Homo sapiens: one gene and its partners. The protein of the gene in region 2 purifies or fractionates together with the protein of the main gene of each other region. This does not show direct contact. Each region holds a gene or a part of one and is shown on either strand. Other genes may lie near its edges.

Region 1 (5,024 bases), on a different chromosome or scaffold from region 2:
GATTAAGGTAACCTCTCAAACTACTACAAAAAAGGGGTGGGTCTTTCAAAGAATGGTATTGGAAAAGCTGGACGGCTTTATAATTATTATTACACATTTTTAGAGATGGGGTCTCACTCTGTCGTCCAGGCTAGAGTGCAGTGGTGTGATCACAGCTCACTGCAGCCTCAAACTCCTGGGCTCAAGAAATCTTCCTACATCAGCCACCCAAGTAGTTAGGACCACAGGCAAATGCCACTATACCAGGCTAACAAACACACACACACACACACACACACACACACACACACACACACACACACCACACACACACACCACACACACATACAACTAAATATCAGCAGAAACAAATGAATCTGGGCCGGGCATGGTGGCTCATGCCTCCCAGCACATTTTGGGAGGCTGAGGCAGGCAGATCACCTGAGGTCAGGAATCCAAGACTAGCCTGGCCAACATGGTGAAACCCCGTCTCTACTAAAAATACAAAAATTAGCTGGGTGACACCTGTAATCCCAGCTACTTGGGAATCTGAGGCAGGAGAATCGCTTGAACCCGAGAGGCGGAGGTTGCAGTGAGCTGAGATCACACCACTGCACTCCAGCTTGGGCGACAGAGTGAAATTCCGTCTCAAAAATAAATAAATAAATAAAACGGATTGTATGACAACTTTATAACATAACCACACCCACAAAATGAATTAACTCAATAAGCTTGAGCACATTAGAATTAAATTTTTTCTAAAGGCAAAAGAAACACAAAGTCATCTTGGCCCATTTACAAGCATGGCTGGATAGCGTCCAACACCTTGCCCAGTATTGTGGTCAGGATCCAGGGCTCTCCTTCCAGGGAAGGACAGGACAGAGTACTCTGAAGGACACTGCTCAGAAAAGGCTGTCACAGATGGGGAGGAATCACCCAAAACCCAACAAGTACTACAGCCCAAGTACCCAGGCTAATGCAAAATTCTCCTTTAAACTGTACTTTTCATTGAAAAAAAAGAAAGTGAAAAAGAAAAAAGGACTCATGGGATGCCCCCAGCTGCCCTGCACTGAGCTGTCCTCCTTATCCAACCCTGCCAGAGGAAATCCCACATACACAGTGGACAGGTCCGACCCCGAGGTCTACAGGGCCCAGCAGCTCCCCAAGGCCACTACTGCCTGTAAAAGGCAAAACCTGACTGTAAGCCTGGTCAGGCTTCCCGTCTGTAGGTGGTCAGTGCCCCACAAGGCAGGTGGTACCTTAGTGCAGGACCCAGTCATAAGCCAAGGCTGCGGAGGGGAGTAGGGCTTGGCTTGTGCAATCAGGTCCCAAGCAAGTTGAAAGAGTATGTTCTGTCACCACTGAATCCCATAAATGCTCTGAGAAATGCACGTTTTCAACTGTAATTTTAACTGGATGAAGGCATGACTGTCCAACAAGCTAGGACCAGCACGAGGAGTTGAGAGCCCCCTCAGTAGGGTTCTGGCTCAGTAATGGGAAGATGGGTGCCTCCTACCGGCAGCCTTTCTCTGGAGGGGACATCTCATGTCACCCCGGGGAAAAACCCCAGGGGCAGTGCTGGCTCCTCACCCAGGTTTTCTTGCCTATGGGCTGTGTGCTTTTGAGCTGAGCTCCACCTATCCAAGGAATGGAGAGGGCAAAGGTACCTGCTCCCAGCATGAGCACGCCACCTTATCCCTGTGTAGAAGTGCCTGCTGTCAGACCTGGGCAAGGGCTGACTATCACTACTATCATGCAGTGAGCAGCAAATCCTCACCTCTCTCCCCTCCCCTGGCCAACTCCTATTTAGCCTTTGGATGCAGATTAAATGTCCCTCTGGGGAGGTTTTTCCTGATGCCCGAGATGAAGGCAGGTCCCCTAGAACAGATTTTTTTTTTTTGAGATGGAGTTTCACTCTTGTTGCCCAGGCTGGAGTGCAATGGCGCGATCTCGGCTCACTGCAACCTCCGCCTCCCAGGTTCAAGCAATTCTCCTGCCTCAGCCTCCCCCGAGTAGCTGGGATTACAGGCACCTGCCACTACACCCGGCTAATTTTTTTTATTTTTAGTATAGAGACGGGGTTTCACTATGTTGGCAAGGCTGGTCTCAAATGCCTGACCTCATGATCCACCCGCCTCAGCCTCCCAAAGTGCGGGGATTACAAGCATGAGCCATTGCACCTAGCCTTTTTTTTTTTTTTTTTTTTTGGAGATGAAGTCTCGCTCTGTTGCCCAGGCTGGAATGCAGTGGCTCAATCTCAGCTCACTGAAACCTCCGCCTCCCGGGTTTAAGCGATTCTCATGCCTCAGCCTCCCAAGCAGCTGGGATTACAGGTGCTTGCCACCATGCCCGGCTAATTTTTGTATTTTTGTAGAGATGGGGTTTTAGCATGGTGGCCAGGCTGGTCTCGAACTCCTGAACTCGGGTGATTAGAACAGATCTTTCTCCCTTAGGCCCCTGGCTCAGCTGAAGTGAAGTCATGACTTACTCCTGGTATAACCCCCATAGTAGGAATGCATTGGCCAGGCTGTGGGCTGGCTCAGGACATGCTTGTGGCGTGAACACACTCAAATCTAAAGGGTGTAATGGCCAGTTGCAGTGGAGCACACCTGTGGTCCCAGCTACTCTGGAGGCTGAAACAGGAGGATCACTTGAGCCCAGGAATTCAAATCCAGCCTAAGCAACATCCTTAGACTTTGTCTCTCTGAGAAAGAAAAAGGTGTGATGAGACCCGGGGGGGTACGTACCACAGGTCAGGGTTATCGGTGCTGTTTTCTATGCTGAATTGTTCGATCTCTGGTCCCACCTGAGCAACAAATCTAGCCAGTTTCTCTGCAGTCTCCATTGTCTTCATGTCAACTACAAAACATAAAGCACCTGTCAGGCATGACTCCTGAGCTGCTGCTCCCCGTGTAAACACTGCAGGGTTGTGGAGGCTGATTATAAAGATGGCCTGCATGTCCCCTCCCTGTAGCCTTGCCCTTCGTCACATGTGGACCCTTTGTCACCAAGAAGTGAACTCTGTGTATCCCCACCTTGAATCAGGGCTGGTCCTGGGACTCACATCAGCTATAGAATGTGGTGGAAAAGCCCATTGCCAGTTCCAAGCCTGGGCCTTGGAGGACTTGAGTACTTCCACTGTCTCTCCTGAAGCCCCAACCCCAATTGCCAGGTGAACAAACATGGGCTGGCTGCTGGGGGGATGACAGGCATGTGGCCCAGCCACACCATCATCTCAGCTGACAGCCTGGACACCTGCCACTGACCGCAGACATGTGTGGGCTAGCTCAGCAGATGACCCAGCCACTGGCAAATTCACAATACCGGACGCCTCCTGGTTGGTTTGTTTGGTTTTTTTTTGAGATGGAGTCTTGCTCTGTCGCCCAGGCTGGAGTGCAGTGGTGAGATCTTGGCTCAATGCAACCTCCGCCTCCCGGGTTCAAGCGATTCTCCTAGCTCAGCCTCCCGAGTAGCTGGGACTACAGGCATGTGCCACCACGCCCAGCTAATTTTTTGTATTTTTAGTAGAGATCGGGTTTCACCATGTTGCCCAGGCTGGTTGCGAACTCCTGAGCTCAGGCAATCCACCCGCCTTGGCCTCCCAAAGTGCTGGGATTACAAGTGTGAGCCACCACGCCCAGCTGATGCCTCCTGTTTTAAGCCACAGTTTGGAACGGCTCACGACACAGCAACACCTAAATAATGCAGCAGTTGTGGACACTTTTTTGCTCTCTCCTTCCCACTTAGTGCTTAGGAAGCACTGGCCAGAGAGCAGGCCTGTGGTACAGAGAGAAAGAAACAGCTAAGGTGACAGAAGAAACAGAAGGGGTGAAGTTAGTCGATTCGGAGGAAGCAGTGCAGGTCAGCGAACCCCAAGAACAGGAACTGTGGAGACCCTGGGGATGAGGAGGCGCAATGAGAACAAGGCAGTCCCGAAGACTATCAAGGGAGGCCAGGATATAGCAGGACATGGGATCCCAAGTTCAGGCAATGCACCGCCCACGGCCCCAGCAGCAGGACCCTGTCGGGGAGCACGAAGGCATGGGGCAGCACCTCATACCAGCTCCGCTCTCAGAAGAGGAGGAGGGAGCTGCAGGACTCGCATGCAGCTCTCTCAAGAAAGCAAGAGAGAAAGCGCCAACATGTACACTTGTCCTGGCCAGGTCCCTAGAGCTTTTATCCACTGCCTTGCCTAGATTGCAGGCCCCCCCAATTCTAAAGAGACCCTGGAGATGGGAGAGTAGGGACTGGGGCCCAGAGGAGGGGGACAGGAGTGAGCACCCACTGTCAGCAGATGGGCAGGGAGAAGAGGTCTGAGGTGCTTCAGAGATGTCCACTCCTGCTGGCTTGGGGGATGGGCCTGAGGCTTCTAAGCTGGGGTCCTGAGGAGAAGGTCCAACTGGGTCTGGCGGGCAGTCCTTGGCAGCATCATTTCTGTCTGGCAGGGATGGTTTTGCCTGTGAGAGGCCTGGAGCCTGCCGGCCGTGGTGTTTCAGCCTGGTGCCTGAGGATAGGAGGGTCTGGGTCCCGGTGGTCGCTCTCCTCGCCTTCCAGCCCCGGAGCCCTTGAGCACGGAGGAGCCCCCGCCGCTGCCACGGAAGGAGTTTCTTCTTGAGGTTGCGGACAGCCCGGGAGTACAGCATGGCCCTCACTGCACAGTCTGCTGAGGTCGGCTTCTGGTCGGCTCCTCGCAAGTTCTCGCTCATCCGCTGCATTTCTGCCAACTTCAGCTTGTAATATTTATACTCCAGACTATTTTCATCAGACAAAAACCTAGATAACAAAACAAGCATAACGGGACATTTATGAAAACACCACCAGGTCCCAAATTGTTCCTTCAAACACAAACCCTTTCTAAGTGGCCAACTCCTCACTGTCCTCTCCTGTCTCAGAGGCTCTGCCTGGCTCTACTGAGGACCCAGAGCTAGGCCCAAGACAGCTGCCCTGCTAAGAGTGACCACAGGGCAATCGGGAGTTTGAACTGAGTTCCTCCTTGATTTCCATCAGCAGCAGCCGTGAGGGAGCTCCCAGCTCTTGATGGCCTG
Region 2 (5,024 bases):
ATCACGAGGTCAGGAGATTGAGACCATCCTGGCCAACATGGTGAAACTCCATCTCTACTAAAATACAAAAAATTAGCCAGGTGTGGTGGCACATGCCTGTAGTCCCAGCTACTTGGGAGGCTGAGGCAGGGGAGTCACTTGAACCCAGGAGGCGGAGGTTGCAGTGAGCTGAGATCGTGCCACTGCACTCCAGCCTGGCGACAGAGTGAGACTCCATCTTAAAAAATAATAATAATAAAATAAAAAATAAAAAAGTGAATAGCTCAGTTAATTTTAGCAGCTTTATATGCTTGTACAACAAATAATCACTACCCATTTTATCCACCCTCATCCCCAGGCAACTCCTGATCTGCCTTCTGTAGTTATAGTTTTCTGTAGCCCTTCATAGAAATTTCATCTGGATAGAATCGGAATATCTGTTACTTATATTTAATTTGGAAACTAAGTTCACCTTATCAAAATAGGCAAAGACAAACTAAATTAGGTGGATCTTGTATTTAATTATAAACAACAGCAGAATAAATTAATTAGAAGAATTTTCTTAACAGGTGCTAAGACTTTATGGTAGGCCTCATTTGCTTTGCTGAATTGCAATGTATTTTCTTTTTGTTAAGTATATTGTCTAGTTTTGAGCTATGCATTACATTTTCTCTTTAAGAAAAATGAATTAGTATGCATTTCAACTTCAGGCTTTATTCTAAAGTCTATATTATTATGACTTTTTCTAAAGAATACATATTTATGTGTTGTGTGAATGGACAAAGACACTTAATGAGCCTTCAAACATTTGTGGATGGATGAATGGATGGAAGATGGCTTGATGACTTCCATATATTTGGGTCTCAGGAAAGTTGTTTATTTCATAAGTTCTCAGGATGTAGCAAATTAATAAACTGCATATATTTGGAATAGAATTTCATTCTTTGTGTGTTTTTATTTCACAGAAGAAATGTGAAACAAATTCTAGCAAGAAGCAAAGCATTACAGTGGACGAAGTCCTATGTTTTACCAGAGTTTCCCTATGATGTCAAATGCATGTTAGCAGAGCAGAAGTGCCCGGATCACAGCATGAGGATAAGGATCATTGAGTTTCTCCAGGCCGACATGACTAAGTATCTGGAAGGCTCACTGTGAGTGACAACAGGACAAGCTTGCTGCTTTGGGAAAGGGTCTGTTTCAGAATAGAGTAGAATTCCTGTGGAATCAACTCTCTTCAGATTGTGGATGATATATTGGTAATAGGTCCCAATTGCCCAATATTTAAATCTCTTTTTGTTATATAGAAAAATGTGAAGAAAAATGAGTGTAATTAGACTCATCTTAAAGGAAGGAATGTGGTTTGCTTGAAGTGAAACATATCCTCCTTGTTTTGGTGAACAGGTACCCCAGCACCCAGCAGTACAATGACGTGGTTAATGCCCTGCTGCAGGCCCACCCTTTCCTGGATGAGGATGGCTGTGGCTTCGTAAGTGACCACATGGCACCATCCTGTTAATTTCAGACTATCTTAAAATAATTGCCTTGTGTTGCCCAGTAATTTTATGCTTCACCCATCTTTTCTTGGTGTCTCTCTCTCTCTCTCTCATTCTGTCTATGTATCTAGGTCTATCTGTTTCTGTTTTTCTGACTCTTTGTCTCTTTAATCTCTCTCCAACTTTGTTTCTGTCTTTCACTTTCTGTTAGTCCATGCTTCTTTCTTGACTTTGCGCTCTCTCTCTCTCTGGCTCTCTCTCTTTCTCTCTCTGTCTCCTTGTCTTCCCTTTTTCATAACTTCTTGGTCTCTCTCTGCCCTGTGTTTCTTTGTCTTCTTTGTCTCTCTCTGTCATCATGTTGCTGTCCTGTCAAAACTGGAAGCTCAGTGCAACAGAGCTGATCAGGAGTTGCCTAGGGCTGAGGGTGGCCAAAATGGATAGTGATTATGGTTGCACAAGCATATAAAGTTGCTAAAATTGAGCTGTTCGCTTTAGAGTCTTAAGGGTTTTAAGGGTTAGGAAGGGTCTTTAGGAGATGTGACACATAGAAAGAGAAAGACATGGCTGCACCTGCTTCGGAGCTGTCATCAAGTGTTTCTTGCCTTCTCAGACCCAGTGGAGCTGTTGTCTGGCTTTGAGGTCTGGGCCTCCAGCCTTACCTGGCCCTGTCAGATCTCTGCTTTCTGTCCTGATAAAAACAGACCCTCAGGATGCTCTGGGGCAGCAGTTCTTTTTTTTTTTTTTCCTTTTTTTTTTTTTGAGACGGAGTCTCGCTCTCTCACTCAGGCTGGAGTATAGTGGCGCGATCTCAGCTCACTGCAACCTCCGCCTCCTGGGTTCAAGCAATTCTCTGGGGCAGCAGTTCTAAGCTCTGGTTGCACATTAGGATTCCTAGAGATTCAGATTGAATTAATTTGAGGATGGGATTATTCTAATGTACAACCACGGCTGAGAACCACTGCCGCTGACGTTTCAACACAAAGTTTGCTGTTTGAACCTGCCTGTCTCCTGGATTTCAAAGACCACTGTCTTCATTGCACAACAATGTGAATATAATCAACACTATTGAACTGTACCTAAGAATAGTTAATAAAAAACTGAGTGTTTATGATGCTGTAACTTTATGAGTTAAGGAACAATTACAAGGAACTGTAGCTATGTATACAAAAAGGTAGATGGTCTATTATTCCCTGTATCTCTATATGCCATATGCATACACATTGGTAGGCATATCTAAAGAAGATAGATGTCTTTTTGTGCTTTACTGTCTCAGATGTCTGTGAAAAGATATTTTTTGCTGTGCTTTCTTAAGGACATGGAATTTCAGCAATTATTTCCAAGAACAACAAAGGATAAATGCCAATTATCTATGAATATAAAGACATTTTAAGGCTCTGTTTCCTCCCTCCCTTCCTCCTTTCCTTCCATCCTTCTTTCCTTCCTTCCTTCCTTCCTCCCTCCCCTCCCTCCTTCTTTCTTCCCTCCTTCCTTTCTTCCTTCCTTATTTGTATTTACCCCTCCCTCCCTCTCTCCCTCCCTTCCTTCCTTCTTTCCTTCCTTCCTTTCTTCCTTCTTTTTTTGTATTTTCAAGAAAAGGTTCATTATATATGGAGAGAATCACAGAATTTTCTCAGTGGGAGAGGTAATTAAAGGTTTTTTTCACCACTCAGACTGAGGAAAGATGTTGTATACCATGTCTGGAAAAATGATAGTTATTGAAGCCAAGATTAGAATTCAGGTATTCTTGCTTCTAGGATGACATCCTTTCCAAAATATGCTGCTGCATATAAAGTGCACTACAGAAGAAACTGAATTTCCTCTAAAAAAACAAAACAAAGCGAAGGAAAAAAAACAAGGCAACAACAACAATACTACACAAACCTGGCATCCCAACATTGACAATCATGTCAATATGGCTGACAAAACTGATTCTCGGAATTTCTTCTACACTGGAGATACATCTACCAACTTAATGTCTAATCAGTGTTACTGTGTATAGAACTTGTGGTTTTTTTTTTTTTTTTTTTTTTTGAGACAGAGTCTTGCTCTGTCGCCCAGGCTGGAGTGCAGTGGCACGATCTCGACTCACTGCAAGCTCCGCCTCATGGGTTCACGCCATTCTCCTGCCTCAGCCTCCCGAGTAGCTGGGACTACAGGTGCCCCCCACCACGCCCAGGTAATTTGTTGTATTTTTAGTAGACATGGATTTTCACCATGTTAGCCAGGATAGAACTTGTGTTTTTTTTTTAAATTTACATTTACTGTTTGAATAAATTACATATTTACATAGCTCAAAATTCAAAAACTACAAAAGGGTATAAATAGAAAAGTTTCCCACCCGCCCTTGCTTCTGCAGCCACCTAATTTTCCTCCCCATAAGTAACCAATACTATTAGAGTCCCTCTAGAGAATCTTTGCATATACCTAAGCAAATCCATATTGATTCAATACCTTTTGACCTTTAGTTTGATGGTTATCAAAGTGAGACATGTACAAAGTAACAAATAATGCTTTCTTTGCTCTTGTGTCCATTTTATCCACATCTGTTCCCAGTGACATTCACTAAGGACCGTTAACTGATAAAGAGATGTGTGCAAAATTGCTTAGCAGATTAGGGCTCAGATTTGCACTCATAGAGTAGAAGGAGAAACTCTGGTGCCTGGATGGATGTTTACCCAAATTCTCCCTGCGAGTGTGTGTGAGGTTGTGTTTCTAATGTTACAGTGGAAAATGTACAAAATTTCAGAGAACATTAATGGGAGGCAGGGGTGGAGAAAGAAAAAGGGTGCACAAACTTGGTTATTTTTAGGGCTAAGTTTATTTTTAACTCTTAATTTTGAAAAATTTGGGGCCGGGTACGGTGGCTCATGCCTATAATCCCAGCACTTTGGGAGGCCAAGGCGGGCAGATCACCTGAGGTCAGGAGTTTGAGACCAGCCTGGCCAACATGGTGAAACTCTCTCTCTACTAAAAATACAAAAATTAGCCGGGCATGGTGGTGGGCACCTTTAATCCCAGCTACTCAGGAGGCTGAGGCAGGAGAATCGCTTGAACCGGGAGGCCGAGGTTGCAGTGAGCTGAGATCACGCCATTGCACTCCAGCCCAGGTAACAAGAGCGGAACTCCGTCTCAAAAGAAAAAAGAAAGAAAGAAAAAGAAAAAAGAAAAGAAAAGTTTCAAATCTGAACAAAAGTTGAAAGAATGCTACATTGATATGCATATACTCCTAACAACATGGATTTTCTCAACCTCTTGACTGTTTACCTTTGGGGCTGGATAATTCTTTCTGCTGGGGACTGTCTAGTACATTGAAGTATATTTAGTAGCATCCCTGGCACCCACTAGGTGTGAGTAGCACTCTGTCCACCCAGTTGTAACAACCAGACATGTCCCCAAACATCACTAAAGTAAGCACACTACAGAATAAAGCAAAATTTCTCTTAAAAAACAAAACAAAGCAACAACAACAACAAAACCAAACAAGGGGAGGGAGAGGAGCAACATCACGTCACTGGCTGAGAGTTACTGATCTAGATTAGGGATTTTTTTGCC
Region 3 (5,024 bases), on a different chromosome or scaffold from region 2:
TCACACCTATAATCCCAGCATTTTGGGAGGCCAAGGCAGGCAGATCGCTTGAGGTCAGGAGTTCAAGACCAGCTTGGTCAATATGGTGAAATCCTGTCTCTACTAAAAATACAAAATTAGCCGGGCATGGTGGCGTGCACCTGTAGTCCCAGCTACTCGGGAGGCTGAGGCACGAGAATCACTTGAACCCAGGAGGCAGAGGTTGCAGTGAGCCGAGATTGCGCCACTGCACTCCAGCCTGGGTGACAGAGTGAGATTGTCTTAAAAAAAAAAAAAAATTAATAAATAAAACAGGAAATAGACGTATTCAAGAGGGAAAAGGAAGACTTACTGAGTACCTACTATATGCTTGGTGCTTTACATAAAAATTTTTTTAACTCCAATGATAGTCTTATGAGGCAAATATTACCCCCAATTTTTTTTTTTTTTTTGAGGCAGGGTCTCACTCTGTTGCCCAGCCTGGAGTACAATGGCATGATTACAGATCACTGCAGCCTCGACCTCCCAGGTTCAAGTGATCCTCCCACCTCAGCCTCCCAAGTAGCTAGGACCATAGGTGAATGCCACCACACTCAGCTATTTAATAATAATTTTGTCATTTTTGTAGAGACAAGGTCTCCTATGTTGCCCAGGCTGGTCTCAAACTCCTAGGCTCAACTGATCCTCCTACCTCCACCTCTGCCTCCCAATTATCCCCAATTGAGAGATGAAAATTCTGACAAGCTCTCAAACGTTAACTGACTTGCCCATAAATGACAGTTCCAAAGTTATAAGGCTAGAACTTGAATCCAGGTCTGTTAGAAATCTAGGTTTGAGAATCCATATTCTCTCCACTTAATGGATTTAAGATTCACAGATATAAAAGCCTATCTAAGGAAAAAGAATATTTAAAAGAATACAGTTATATATTCAAAGAGCTACACAATCTTACAGTTTAAGAAAAATCAAAACTGAGAAAAAGTATGCTCCAAAATTATTGCTAATTGTAAAAAAAAATAAATAAATAAAAAAAACACACACAATTTTTAGCAAGCCAGCTGTCTATGACAGGACAGCTAGTCCATTCCTCACTGTACATGTAAAATTACACTTCAGTTGCCCGCTGGATGACCCCACTGCCAAAATACGCCAGCAACATAATTCACATTAAAACCCAGAGGCCTAACACTATTTGGAAAGTGCTTTACATGTTTACTATACCTATCCCAAGCATATTTACCACTCATAATTCATAGGCCATTTTCAGCAAATATACTTTGTTCTATCATATTATTTTCTGCCACTCTAAAATCATATTAAATGTATAAAACAAAAACACCTACCTAAATATAACATCTCACAAATAAACCTTAGTAGTATTATGTTATTTTGAACTTGTCTATTGTATGAAACTATGCCATAATTGTTTCTATAACATAAATTAGGTATGTTCTTTCTACAGGATCAAAATTCCAATACCTACACTCCTTGCATGTCTAAAGATACACACAAAATAGGTACAGAAACCTATATGTTAAAGGGTTTCCCATGTAAATTAAATCCTCTATGAGCTGGATTAGTGACTAGAAGAAGGCATGAGGCAGCTTGTAGAGTTCTAGTGATATTCTATATCTTGATGTAGATGTTAGTTACACTGGTATGTTCTTAGTGAAAATTCACTGAGCTATATATTTACCAGCTGTGTACTTTTTGTATATTTTATAATTTATAAAGTCTTATATTTTTAGGCTGGGCACAGTGGCTCAGCCTGTAATCCTAGCACTTTCAAAGGCTGAGGCAGGAGGATGGCTCTAGTCCAGGAGTTTAAGACCAGCCTGGGCAACACAGTGAGACCCTATTTTTTCTGAACTTATATTTTTTAAAATGCTCAATCTAAAAACTTGTTTTACTAAAAAGCACTGATATCATCCCTCTTACCAAAGTAGTCAAACCCTAGTGAAGAAAACAGACAAGTAATTAAGCTATTTCATTAGAGGACTATGATAGAAGTAATTACTATGTGCTACAGGAGCACATAAGAATGGTACCTAACTTAATCTGAAAAGAGGTAAAGGAAATCTTCCTGAAGAATATACACCTGAACTGAATCCTAAAGGTCAGACAGAAATTAGCCAAGCAAAGAAAGGGGAAAGTGGAAATCAGGGAAATAGAACATCAAATGTAAAAGACGAGAGAGAAAGCACATTACCTGAGAGGAAGCCTAAAGTCAGTAAGAGTGGATTAAAGTATGTAAGGAAGACAGCAAGTGAAGAAAAGCTAGAGAATTAAGAGTTAGATCATGAATGATCTCATACACATGCCATGCTACAGTTTAAACTCTATCCTGAAAGCAATGAGACAGCTTTTTTGAAGATTATTCAATAGGAAAGGACATGATTTGATTTTTATCTGTACTATACATGTCAAAATTATGGTGTGGGCCATGCTCACAACCCCATTTTGCGGTAAATTAGCCTGCACACTGTCCCATACTTTCCACCATTAAGATCTTTCCTGATACCCATATATACATACAAACACACAGCCAACAATAAATGGCCAAGAGTGGTGACATAACCTAAGTACACAGACTTGTTAGCAATCAATGAGAAAAAGAGCTGAGCCAAATCTGGAATTCAAACCAGAAAATCCTAGGGAAAAGGAAGAGGTTAGCAACAGGAGCTAACCTCTTTTAAAACGTTTTAAAACAATTGCAGCCAGGAGGCAAGATGTTGGCATGGGGGTCACATAGTAGTTATAAGGAGCAGAAATTAGTAATAAATGGAAGCTATGACATAGGGGGAAAAAAACTGAAGAAAGAAACGGTATCTAGGACAAGCTAACAATGGAGCACTGGAGTGGGGTCTCCAGCTTTATTAGGTTCTTGTTCTTCTTGAGAGCAAGTTTTATTAGGTTCTTTTTCTTCTTGAGAGCAAGTTAACTTTTCCTGGGTTCCCTTGTGTATGGTTCCTTTCAATAAGCACTTCATTACTTAAGGTAACTTGAGTCTCTTCCCTCCAAGTGAAAGAGCCTGACTAAAAGAGCATTTTAGAATACTTACTCCAACAGCAGTCAAGAGAATGAACAGGAGGGCATGACAAGAGGCAGAAGACAGAAGGCAAGAAGACCACTCAGCATTACAGAAGCCCAACAAACAGATATTTTCAGTTAAAATAAGATAGAGGCAACAAAAAGTAATAAGGAATGACCTGAAATATCATGAGGGAAAATGTACAAGGCAGTGACAGACTGGATGTTGGCAGTGAAGTACAGAGTGAAGCGGAGGGCAATTCCCAGGTTCCTGAAGGTTTCATGAGGAAAGAGTGGTGCCATTAATCAAGGTAGGAAATCGGGGGGAAGAAAAAATTTTGTTGCAGTTTCTGTCTCCGGCTCTCTCTCCACTGTTTTTGTGGGGGGAAAAGAGGCAGGAAGAGTTTTGTTTCCTAAATGTTTGGATTGAAGTGTTTGTGAAATGTGAATCAAAGTGGTGATATCCATTAGGCAGTGCTTTTACAGGGGTCTAGAGCAAAGGCAAGCACTCTAGACAGCAGTTCTAGACTTAGGAATCAATACATTAAGTCAATATTGTGGTTTTTAAAATGTCTGAAAAGTCTTTGACTAATATTTATTTCAAACTGAGTTAACATAACCAAAAATCACTCCAACTAAAAACCTTAATATTCTTGGCAAATCATATTTTCAAACCTCCTACATTTCTCTGCTATTAAAGACTGAACAAACTTCCACATAGTATAATCCAAATGATTAGGAAAGATGGAGTTTATATCGCTAACTTCTATTGAGGTACTTGTTAAAAAAAATCTAAGTTTACCCAATTTCCCTCAGGAACTATATACTACTAAAATAACTAAGGGAAAACAACTGTTAAAAATTCATATATTAGATAGTGAATCTCACTGTTAATGCTTAAACTAGAATAAGTTTTTTAAAGGCACTTAATCATGTAATTTACTAATTTAAATATTCAACTCTACCTGTAATTTAAATGTTGGGTTTCCATCCTAAAACCTTTTCTCCTCCCTTCTGTATGATTTTGCCTCCAAAATCTACTGCTATCAACCCAGAACCTGATACTGAGCTTCAGCCACAAATCCAAATGCCTAATGGTCATCTACATCTGACAGAACTACAGTCACCTAAACTGAACATGTCACAAATTAACCCCTCTATCCTTCCTCCTTGACAAAATAAAAACAAAATCCCACTCCTTCATGGGAATCCCCACCTCAGTGAAAGGCACAAGCCAGAAACCTAGATTTTATCCTGTATGCAACTTCTCCCCAACCCCAAATACAATAAAATCACCAACTCAACTCCGAATATCCAAGTTCAGATCCAGTCTCACCATTTGCCTGGATAACCCTAATATTCCTGGCCTTTAGTCTTATTCTACTCTTCAATTCACTGCAGCCAGAATGACTTTTTTAAAATGCAAATCTGATCATTCCAGTCCCCTGCTTTAAAATCCTTCAATAATTTAATAAATATTATAATCATCATCACAGCTAGTCACACTGTGGAAGCTCAGAGGTTCAATGAGAAATTTAGTTACATCCTTTCTGTAGGTTCAACATAAAAGAATCATCAGGAATTTTTTTCAACTCACAAAATTATTTAAACATACATATAACATCAGACACATTTAAAAGAAAAGCATGTAACATTGTTGGTAAAAGCAAAACACCAAAAATAACCTCCAGTCCACAAAAATGGAATACTATCCAGCCAGTAAATGAGGCACTTCCATATGTATTGTTAAGAAATGACCTCTAGGATGTAGTATTAAGTAAAAAAAACAGGCTATGTATAGAATGTAAAGTATGCAACCATTTGTGTACAGTGTCTTAAAAATATAAATGTGTAGGTTTATATATTGGAAATATCACAGAAAGGATACACATGAAGCTGGAAATAGTGGTTGCCTCTAAAGAGGAAAAATGGGTGGCTGGAGAGTGAAGGCGGAACAGAAATTTTTACTACATTACTCTTCCGAAACTTTTGGCTTTTACGTCTAGTTATTATCT
Region 4 (5,024 bases), on a different chromosome or scaffold from region 2:
AGTTATCTAGGAGGCTGAGACAGGAGATGGAGGTTGCAGTGAGATCATGCCACTGCACTCCAGCCTGCATGACACAGTGAGACTTTGTCTCAAAAAAAAAAAAAAAAATTCATCCATACATTTTTCTGGGTGACTAGACAGTATCCAAAGAAACATCATTACAAAAATAGGTTTTCTCTAGTCCTGTCTATATATATATATTTTTTTCCCTTGGCCCATTTATTTGGCTGAAATATATGAGATGCTTACTTACATCTGGTGCTGGTCTCAGAGTAAAAAAATAAAAGATTTCACGATGTGGTATCCAAGGATCCTAAAGAACGCCTGGATCCCACATGCCAGGCACTGTTTTGCAAAAGGAAACAGGGATGTTTTAGCTTGATTAGATTTAGTGATGCAATAAAACTGCTGTCTTCAGAGACAAAACAAAATAAACTTCCCAGCTATGGAGAGGAGGCTGTTTTTGTTTGGAAGAGGCACTCCTGGGCCTTTTGTTAAGACGGGTGTCAGCTCGGAACCAGCAGCCCTGCAGAAGTGCCCAGGATTTTCTTTGTTTAAAAGCAAGTCTTCAGGGTCTGCTGAGGGTGTACGGGTGGTGGGTCTGGGTGGTTCCTTTTGCCGTGGTCCCGGGAGTGGCTGGGCGGGCCACGGTCAGGTGGAGGCCGGGCTGTCCATGGTAGACAGCAGGTGAACGACCTGCGCCCGCTCAGCTGGGCTGATGTGCTGGCTCAGGTATATCACACAGTCCACGGCCACCTCGGGGTTTTCTTCAACCAGGCTGTGGGGGAGGTGAGAGGAGGGCTGGGATCACTCCAGCCACTTTTTCAGTGGCCCCAAGGGTGGCAGAGTCCTTGTGTGGGGCCACACCCCAGAACCCAGAGCTCCCGAGTCCCTGCTGTGGTCCCCATGGGGGTGATGGTCCTGTGCAGCAGGAGGGGCTGTGACCTGAAGTTCAGAATGCCTTGAGGCACCACCGTCCCTACTGGTCACTGCTTTGTGACATGACCTGAGACAAGACACTGCCTTGAGTCTCAGCTTCATCCCCAAAATGGGGTCCCCTGTGCTCGACTCCCTCCTTCACGGGGTGACCCCATGGCAATTGGGGGAGGGGACCCTCTGGAAAGGTCAACACTGGCGTGGAAGACAGCAGCCTGAAGGCTAGCGGTTCCAAATGTGGGTTCTGTGACCAACCCTGCTCCAGCTGTGACTTTGGACAAGTCCATATTCCAGCAAGGTTCATGAGTTGGAAGCATCTCACACGGCCTTCAGAGTACCTCTAGGCTCTCTGTCCCACCCCAGCCACTGTGCTGGGAGACCCGACATTAGGGAGTGTGGTCTCTTTGCTGGGGAGCGGGGAGGGGGCGGGGACAACCCCAGACTGCACAGGGTGGCGGGTTCAAGTGGCTGCATAGGAGTCGGGTAGCTAGGGGTCAATCCAGGCTCGGGTCCTTGCCAGGAGGCTGGGAAGCAGGTGCGGTGGCCACTCACCCTCGGATGGTCTTGAGGACAGAGTCGTGCTTCAGGTACGTGATGTTCTCACGGATGGTGGAGCGCGGGCCATCCCCTGCCTGCCAGTGCTGTTCCAGCCACTGCACAACCACCTGGTTGTTGTCCCACAAGTAGGCCTGGGGAGGGGGCAGAGGATGCCTCAGAGAGGGACCCAGCTGTGGGCCAGCTGTCTCAGCCCCCAGCACCCCCTGTGCTCACCGGCCTCGTTCTCACCCCAGGCCCACCTTGACAGCCCCCTCCGTCTCCACGAACCAGCGACGCAGCATGGACTGGATATGCACGTGACTCAGCTCCCCGCTGGCCTGCAGGATCTCCTGCTTGACCTGGTCCTCCAGGAGGAGGCGGCGCAGACGCCAATACAGGAAGGTGCGTGCGGTCTTCCACTCCAGGATGTCCTGTGGACGAGCCAGGCTTGAATCCCCGGAAAGGGAAGGAGGAGACGGGACACTGGCTCTGACCACACCCATGACAGTGGCTGCCCGGGGCTGGGCCCAGGCTCTGAGATCATTCCCAGATCATCCCAGGCAAGTAAGCTGAGGCTCAGGGAGGAGAAGGCACCTGCTCAGAGGCAGGACGTCACCAGGACTCCAGACTGGCCATAGTTGAAAAAATGTCCCCCATAAAAACCTGGCACCCACTTCTACCTCAACCGACACAAACACAGGCTCGTGTGAGGCATGAGTCAGCTGGGAGGGAGAACAATGCAGCAAGAGAACCAATGAGCACTGGACATGGGTAGGAGGTGACTGTGGGAGTCCTTGCAATGGTGAGGGGTGGGTGAATGCTGGACAGGAACAACGGTTTCTACCCCTGGTCCAGGTCCAAACTGACCGAGCCATCAGACTAGTGGTCCCTGAACTTTGCTGCTTATTAGAATCTCTTGGGGATCTTTAAAAAATACGACCGCCTGGCTTCCATCCAGGTGTTTGGATTTCACTGGTCTGCAGTGCCACCTGGGGATCGGGATTATTTTAAAGTTCCCAGGTGACTCCCACCTCCTGCAGCATTTGACCCATCCCAACCACCACCGCCCTCCCCGCCCCCGAGCCCAAATGTCCTCCATGTTTTGGAAAACAGGGTGGGCTCTTTGCACCCTACACGGCAGCTGTGGCTCTCACAGATATGACGCCCTTCTCCAGCATCCGGCCGGGTGTGTCATGGAAGTCGGCGAACTGCACCGCCACCTGGTGGTAGATGGGGAGCAGCAGGTCCTCGCGAGCCTTTAGCCGGCCCTCCAGGTCCTTTCGGTCCTTGTCGGAGAGATCAGGTTCCCCTGCAGGTGAGCAGAAAGGCCAGTCAAGCCATGGAAGCTGGTCATATGTGATGGGGTGGAGATTTTTTTTTTTTTTTGAAGAAGGCACAAATCAGGATTTGCAGGACAGGCCTTGCCTTGTGAGAGGTCTGAGCTTTAACTCTGATATTACCCCTGCTGCTACACAGGCTGCCCTCAGCCCCCTAGGTCCCCCAGAGTCCACTGGCCTGGCCCCCACCCCAGGCCCATCTTGATGGCCCCCTTTGTCTCAGATCAAATAGCTAGTACAGTCTCAGAAATGCACTCACAATTGCAAGACAGCATTCAACATGCAACTCTACATTTTCCCCTTCCATCAGACCCATCGTGCTTGTAGGATACTATATCAATGATTTTTAGTACACATTGTAAAATATGATAAGGGAATATTATAAGCAACTCTATGCCAAATTGACAACTTAAGATGAAATAGACAAATTCCTTGAAACACACAAACCACCAAAGCTCACCTAGGAGGAAACAGATAACACAAATAGTCCTATATATAACAAAGAAGTTGAATTTATAGGTAAAAACCTCTATCAAAAACATAAAGAAATAATGCCAATTCTGCAAAAACTCAGAAAATAGGAGCGAACACTTCAACTCATTCTATGAGATCAGCATTACCCTGATACCAGCCAAAGAAATTACACGCACACACTGTAAAAAATCTTGTGAATAGCACAGTTATAAAGACACTGACACTTAAAATGGATATTTAAATATCATCTTGTGGCCAGACTTAGTGGCTCACGCCTGTAATCCCAGCACTTTGGGAGGCTGACGCAGGCAAATCACTTGAGGCCAGGAGTTCAAGACCAGCCTGGCCAACATGGTGAAACCCTGTCTCTACTAAAAACACAAAAATTAGCCAGGTGTGGTGGCACACACCTGTAATTCCTGCTACTTGAGAGGCTGAGGCATGAGAATCGCTTGAACCTGGGAGGCAGAGGTTGCAGTGAGCTGAGATTGCGCCACTGCACCCCAGCCTGGGCAACAGAGCAAGACTCTGTCTCAAAAATAAACAAATAAATAAATAAAGATAATTACATCTAAAGATGACAAGTAAAACAAAGCTGTCATTCAAACAAAATTAGTAAAATATCTTATCTCTGATTGGGAATTCTAAAGGAACATTTTGCCACCAAAATTCTGATAATCCCCATCAGCCCCAAATACTTCAATTGCTATCTTTTGTGTATGCTGAGAAATAAATTCACGATGGCAATATATATATATATATATATATATATATATATAATGTTAAAAAGGTTGATTTAGAAATGTGAATGTCCTCCAATCATGGTAGCTCATGCCTGTAACCCCAGCATTTTGGGAGGCTGAGGTAGGTGGATTGCTTGAGCCCAGGAGTTTGAGAACAGCCTGGGCAACATGGCGAAACCCCACATCTACAAAAATACAAAAATTAGCTAGGCATGGTGTTGCGTACTTGTAGTCCCAGCTACTCAGGCTGAGATGGGAGGATGGCTTATGCCTGGGAGGCAGAGGTTGCAGTGAGCTGAGATTGCACCCTGCACTCCAGCCTAGGCAATAGAGCCAGACCTCAAAAAAACAAAACAAAACAAACAGACAAATGTGAATATCTTTAAAAATCTCACAGTTATTATAGCTGTATTTTGGTATTTTTTCATTTTATTTTTAACATCCTAGAAACCCCCAGCAGTGGGCCAGCTGGGCCTCTCTTGACCTCTGAGAGGTGAAGCCTTTGGGACCCCCTTACCTAGCTGTTCCATGAGCTTCTTGTAAGCTGGATCGATCCTTCTCATGGACTTTATCAGATCTTTCTTTCGGAACTTAATCTCCACTGTCCCCTCTGGTTCCAGAACACCACCCCTTAAAAGAGAAGAGGCAGGGATGGGGGTATATGAGGCATTGCCCAGCAAGCAAGGGCTAATGGATGTGGGGGGAGCTGGAGGGAAGAGAGCCAGAAGATCTGGGTGTCAGTCCTCAGCTCTTTTACCCCCACACATGCTGTGTGCCCTTAGACAAGTCACTTTCCCTCTCTGGGCCTCTGTATCTTTACCCACAGATGGAAAGACTGAGCCAACTGTTTAAAATAATGCTTTCTGAACTCTGGAGGGCCCCTTTCAGGTCTAAGAGTGTACGACTTTTTCCATGGCAGCATAACCCTCCTGCTCTCCAGCCACAGTCCTCTCTAACTTTGCTAATTTCTGCCCTCCTAGAGGAGGGGCACTGTTTC

Evidence for each region.
Region 1: the proteins of SAMD3 (region 2) and SUGP2 purify together in Homo sapiens (affinity purification with mass spectrometry; one large-scale study listed by BioGRID and IntAct). This does not show direct contact.
Region 3: the proteins of SAMD3 (region 2) and MYO9A purify together in Homo sapiens (affinity purification with mass spectrometry; one large-scale study listed by BioGRID and IntAct). This does not show direct contact.
Region 4: the proteins of SAMD3 (region 2) and ACACB purify together in Homo sapiens (affinity purification with mass spectrometry; one large-scale study listed by BioGRID and IntAct). This does not show direct contact.

What each region holds. Positions count from the first base shown.
Region 1 is NC_000019.10:19,005,591-19,010,614, forward strand, and holds part of SUGP2 (SURP and G-patch domain-containing protein 2), read right to left. Parts: intron 4,753-5,024; coding exon 4,265-4,752; intron 2,839-4,264; coding exon 2,727-2,838; intron 1-2,726. UniProt on the Homo sapiens protein: May play a role in mRNA splicing.
Region 2 is NC_000006.12:130,180,544-130,185,567, reverse strand, and holds part of SAMD3 (sterile alpha motif domain-containing protein 3), read left to right. Parts: intron 1-944; coding exon 945-1,130; intron 1,131-1,380; coding exon 1,381-1,465; intron 1,466-3,226; coding exon of another isoform or gene 3,227-3,262; exon of another isoform or gene 3,263-3,496; intron 3,497-5,024.
Region 3 is NC_000015.10:72,111,224-72,116,247, forward strand, and holds part of MYO9A (unconventional myosin-IXa), read right to left. Parts: intron 3,321-5,024; exon of another isoform or gene 3,035-3,320; intron 1-3,034. UniProt on the Homo sapiens protein: Myosins are actin-based motor molecules with ATPase activity. Unconventional myosins serve in intracellular movements. Regulates Rho by stimulating it's GTPase activity in neurons.
Region 4 is NC_000012.12:109,261,990-109,267,013, reverse strand, and holds part of ACACB (acetyl-CoA carboxylase 2), read right to left. Parts: intron 4,658-5,024; coding exon 4,545-4,657; intron 2,783-4,544; coding exon 2,628-2,782; intron 1,905-2,627; coding exon 1,734-1,904; intron 1,626-1,733; coding exon 1,489-1,625; intron 779-1,488; coding exon 652-778; 3' UTR 1-651. UniProt on the Homo sapiens protein: Mitochondrial enzyme that catalyzes the carboxylation of acetyl-CoA to malonyl-CoA and plays a central role in fatty acid metabolism.